Linked DNA regions of Homo sapiens: region 2 is linked to region 1. A link means that fine-mapping ties the variant in region 1 to the expression of a gene that starts in the linked region. Tissue or cell type: blood mononuclear cells. Region 1 holds a variant in brackets; the other region holds the start of a gene. All regions are shown on one strand. Distances are between the middles of the regions.

Region 1 (2,753 bases):
TTGGGTTATTTTGGAGAATTGAGGGCAAGACAAAAGGCTCCCTAACTGCAGGGAAAGGGGAGGCAAGTCATGAGCTCTGAGAAGGCCTGGCAGTGTCTGTGAACACATGAGATGTGCCTGTCACCCCAACTCTGCCAAGGCAGCGTGCAAACAGCCCCTGTTGCACCTCCACTTTCTGCCTGGAGGCCCGAGCAACCGAAGGCTGTCACATCAGCCCAGCTACTGGGAAATGCCAATTTGGAAGCCCAGGACTTACCGCCAAACCTACGGGCCAGTCCCCCGTACATGTAAAAGTACACCCACCCCAGCATGGACATGATATTTATAGGAGTGTTTCTCAACTGAGGGCAATTTTGCCCCCTGGGGACATTTGGTTGTCACAAATGAGGGAGGGGGTGCTAGTGGCATCTAGTGGGTGGAGGCCAGGGGTGCTGCTCAACCTCCCACAGCCCACAGGACAGCCCCCACAACGGAATTACCCAGCTGCCCCAAACCTCGGTAGTGCTGAGGTTGTGATACCCTGATTTATGGCAACATTCCCTCTGAAAACACAAAGCTCTATTACTTGGATCCCTGGAGCAGAAGTAACTTTTTAATAAACAAAATGGCTTATTTTCAGACAATTTCATCATCTGGTTCTCTTTATTAACTATGAATAAGGCCAGCAGTTCTTCTTGTTTCCTGTTATTTACATCATATACAATTTATTAATATCTCACTTAGGTAGAGTGCAAATGACATAGCCAATTAAGTGAAAAAAAGAATCATCACAACATTTTAAAAATTATATTGATCAATGGAAACACTCAATCTTATATGAGAGGCATATTTTTCTACTTTGTTCTTGCATAATTTCAACTTTCTTTTCCTACTTTCACAGGAAAAATATATATGCACATATTTGTATTCATTTTAAATGGGCTATACTTTGTAATTACCACTAGGCTGTAAAAATGCTAGTATTTATAAATGCAGTTAGATAATATTTACCAGACAATATCATCAAGTATTTAATATTTAGATTCAAGAGCTTCATACGTATTAATTAACTATGAGCGTCTTGCAAGGTAATATTTTCTAGTTTCATTGAGGGAAACCAAGGCGTAATAAGGGATAAGCGGTTCCCTCAAGGCTGTAAGAAGGAGCAAGTTCCAAATATTCCTATATTTCTATTTCTTGGGTCTGTGTATACAAACTAGCAAATAATTACTTTTTAGTTTTAATAGCTCAACTTTTTATTCACTGTTTTTTAAAACTGAGTTTCATTGAGGTATAATAACATATTAAAATTAAAAGATACAGTTTAATGAGTTATGACTATTGTTTTTAAACTTATTGTTTACAGCAAAATTTGTTAAATGTACAATAAAAATAGATTTCAGAGGCGCAGTTTGACTACACAGTATCTTAGTACATGGCAAAGACCACAGTTGTTCAGTAAGTCAATAAAATCTCAA[T/C]AATTTTGTCACATTGGGAGAAAGTCCAGTGTGACTGAATAGGAAGAATTTTGAATTGAGAATGTCTGTAGTTTTATTATGAATTAGGAGTTAGGGTATCCTGCTAGGAAGTCACAGTACAACTGACTTTACTTTTGGATCTCGCTGTCTTCATCCGGACGGGGATGGAGACTGAAAGAGGATTAGACTAGAAGATCTCTCGGGTTCCTTGCAGCCCAAATGTGCTGTGGCTTCCAGTCCATGCTTTCAGAACAGTCACCCCGGCCACTCCCTCCTGGAATTCCTCCTCCCCGCCTCCCGTCCCTCCACACCCTCCTGCTTTCTCCTCCTCCTGCTGCTCTTCCTTGACCTCCTTCCCAGCCTCTTCTGAAATGTGGGAATTCCGCAGGCTTTACCCCGGCCCTCTGATCCTGGCACTGCCCACTCTTCATGGCGGTAGCAGCCCCCTGCCTGCTGGTAATGCCCAAGTCTGTGTCTCCGCCCCACCTTCCCCTCCCCCACTCCCGTGGCCCCCGGAAAACATCAGATGGCCTCAGGATATTTGTCCATGGGTGTCCAGAGGCACGTCCAAATCCCCACGCCCAGACAGACTCTTCTCCCTCCCACCCCACATACTGCTTCTCTCCCCGTTTTCCTTGTTTAGGTGAAAAGCACCAGCACTCATTTCAATCTCAGAATCACTCCCGGGGGTGTGTTCTTCCTGCCACACGGAATCTTTATGCTAGACATGAAACAACTAGGCTTAGGGAAGTGGAGGAGCATGTCTAAGCCACACAGCCCGCCAGGGGTGTCTGACTGCAAGGCTAGGGCCCTTGACCACTGCCCTACACCCCAGCATGTGCCCCAGCCGGGGACCCCGGGCGCTGTCCTCAATGCCTCCCCCTCACCACTCACCGCCGCCCCATTGCCAGGACCCGAGACTCACAGGGGTCTCAGGTCAGCTCCCCTGAGGACCTCTATCCCTGGCTCCGTTCACCCACCCTCATCCTCACCTGGATACATCCATCTCCTAACCAGTCTCCCGTCTTCCTCTCTTCAAGCCACACTTTTAAGTTGAGAAAAGGTGCTGTTCCTACAACACAGATCAAGCCACTCCCTTGCTTGAAACACTCCAGTGGCAGTCCACAGCTTCTGGGACAAGAGCCAGCCTGTCACTTGGCAGCAGCCTCTCCATCTTCGTCTCCAGCCTTACAGTCCGATCTCATTATTTCTAGATTCCATACCTGCAAATTCACCTCTTCACTAAAATGTGTTTGTAAACCAAATCAATACTTGTGGCTTCACAGTGATTCACAG
Region 2 (2,753 bases), 28 kb before region 1:
TATACATCCCTGACTGCTGTGATGAGCTTGACATCCAAAATAGGTGTTAAAAACAGGGCAGGCTTCAAATGTTGCCACATTGTAAAAGTCATCACTGTCCCAAGGCTCAAACACCAGCCTGTTCTGACTGATCAGGTCACCACTTAACATCTCTGAAACACTGCTCAGTCAAACCTGAGTTATTAAGCTGATCCATTTAAAGTGTAAAATGTTTAATCCCCCATGATAAGGTTAGTTTCTTGAAGTCTCTCAGATATCAAATTAGTTCCAACAACCAATTTAGAAAATCAGTCGCTTCGGCCGGGCGCGGTGGCTCACGCCTGTAATCCCAGCACTTTGGGAGGCCGAGACGGGCGGATCACGAGGTCAGGAGATCGAGACCATCCTGGCTAACACGGTGAAACCTCGTCTCTACTAAAAATACAAAAATTAGCCGGGCGTGGTGGCGCGCGCCTGTAGACCCAGCTACACGGGAGGCTGAGGCAGGAGAATGGCGTGAACCCGGGAGGCGGAGCCTGCAGTGAGCCGAGATCGCGCCACTGCACTCCAGCCTGGGCGACAGAGCGAAACTCCGTCTAAAAAAAAAAAAAAAAAAAAAAGGAAAATCAGTCGCTTCCTGGGCCGAGCCTAGGCAGGATGCTCTGGTGAGATCCACAGGTACGCAGGTGGGAGAGGGATTCAAGCTGGGGAGGAGGCAGTGGTGGGGAGGAGGCGCGAGACCCGCCCTGATTTGGGGAAAAAGCGAGGTGCACGTGGCTGCCCCACAGCCTAACTCCCTGGTCCCGGCCCTGAACCTCGAATCCCTCCCTGGACTCACTCCCAGTTCGGCGGGTTGACACGAGTGAGCAGCCAGAACGCCCCTGACAACAGCTCCCTCCAGACTGGGTACCGCCCCCACGCCCGGCGCATCCTGGGAGTTGTAGTCCTGTAGCCCTGCAAGCCACTGGCTTAGAGCAGTTAAGAGACTACAACTCCCAGCAAGCCGGGCGAGGGCCCCGCCCCTCCGCGTACCGCCGGCGGCCCCGCCCCGCGAAGCCTAGCACTCTCCCCAAACCTCTCTCGCACGCGGGGACTGAGCACGGCCCGAAAAGCCGAGGACAGCCGGACTCACCCTGTAGTTATAGTAGTGCGTCTGCACAAGATGCCGGTGGCGCGACTTGTGGTTGCCGAAGTTGGATTTCTCGCAAACCAGTAAGTGCCGCGGCGCCTCCCGAAGCCGGCGCAGCGTGGCCATGCTCTCCTGGGTTCCTGGTCCTCCCGGCCTCCGCTGGCGGGGCACGCCCCGCCCCTTCCTCCCGCCCCGCCCCTTCCCTCCGGCCGCATACCCGCTGCTGTGCGCCCCTGGCGGCGGTGGAGTGGGGATGGCGGCGCTGGATTTCTGAGCAGTTCTTAGACTTCTTAGGAGCCCACGCAGCCGCTCTTTGGTGGATGTCTGAAGCTGTAAATTCACTGTCCCAGTGGCTGGGAACCTGGCTCTTGCCTTTTCAACGCCACTTTTCCTCCGTCCCCGCCATCCCTTGGAATTGCCCTAAACCCTCTCTGTGGGCCCCGCCTCGGAGCGCCCCTTGGACCCCAGCCTGGCGCCGGCGCATACCTCGGTCAGGCCCCTCAGAGGGACCGCTTCCTGCCACCGTTATAAAAGGAAAACATCGCATGGAAAGGCCCAGTTCCTTTAGTATATGGTCAAGAAATGTAGCCGCACAGTTAAGTAACCCCCTAAGCTGCTTTGGGGGCCACACCCAGCTGCTTTCTGACTTCTCACACTGTTTGGTTCACAGGACTCTGTTACCCATTGGGGACCTCTTGGCCATTATTAACACAGGCCAACAGGACTAAAAGTTTGTATCAGTCCTTCCCAAAACATTAGGGAAGGTTGTGCGGGAAGGTAAAGCACAATTTTTGCCTTACAATAGGACTCCTTTGAAACTACTATTGAGTTCCCTTTTAAATAGCCCTTCAGAACCGCTTTTAATAATGTGTTGTTTCTGGGGGTTAATAGTGATAATTCTCCTAAGTCATTTTTCCATTTCGTTTTTCTGTCACGGGCTTGGAGCGGTTAAGAGACTGCGGCTCCCAGCATGCGGTACGTTACTGATCAGGGCAAAATCAAGTATGTTACTACATGCTTCTCAAACTAGAGAGGCACAGCCCCAATTCTGCACTGGCAGGATACAAAACAGCAGAATATTGGTGATACATCTTCCTGGAACATCAGTTTTTCTATGAGATGTGGAAGAAATGGAATTAAGTAGTTTACAAGGTAAATAATTAAGAATTTAAAACTAAGCCAGTCACAGTGGGTCATGCCTGTAATCCCAGCACTTTGGGAGGCTGAGGTGGGAGGATCACTTGAGCTTAGGAGTTCAAGACCAGCCTGGGCAATATAGTGAGACCCCATCTCCAAAAATAAAAATAAAACTAAGACAAGGCTGGAAAGTCATCTGCCATTATAAACATCAGTAATCTGGCCGAGCACAGTGGCTCACGCCTGTAGTCCCAGCACTTTGGGAGGCTGAGGTGGGAGGATCACTTGAACTCAGAAGTTCACGACCACCCTGGACAATATAGTAAGACCCCATCTCAAAAAAAAAAATTAAAACTAAGACAAGGCCGGAAAGTCATCTGCCACTAAAAACATCGGTAATCTGGCTGAGTGCTGTGGCTCACGCCTGTAGTCCCAGCAATTTGGGAGGCCGAGGCGAGCAGATCGCCTGAGGTCAGGAGTTCAAGACCACCCTGGCCAACATGGTGAA

The links. PIP is the estimated chance that this variant, and not a neighbour inherited with it, causes the effect.
Region 2: RPP40 starts here. The variant in region 1 is fine-mapped to the expression of RPP40 in blood mononuclear cells (TOPMed, PIP 0.97).

What each region holds. Positions count from the first base shown.
Region 1 is chr6:5,031,130-5,033,882 of GRCh38, forward strand. The region is part of intron 2 of LYRM4-AS1 (LYRM4 antisense RNA 1); the gene reads left to right. It also overlaps a transcript of LYRM4 not described here. Among named protein-coding and RNA genes, the nearest start is that of RPP40, 28 kb to the left of the region's middle. The variant T/C (reference allele first, on the strand shown) is at 1,458.
Region 2 is chr6:5,002,769-5,005,521 of GRCh38, forward strand. RPP40 (ribonuclease P/MRP subunit p40) reads right to left here and starts at 1,269. Exons shown (of 8, transcript NM_006638.4): 1 at 1,112-1,269. The coding sequence starts at 1,234. It overlaps LYRM4-AS1 (LYRM4 antisense RNA 1), which reads left to right and starts at 1,048. Exons shown (of 4, transcript NR_126015.1): 1 at 1,048-1,191. RefSeq lists silencers at 870-1,119, 1,250-1,379.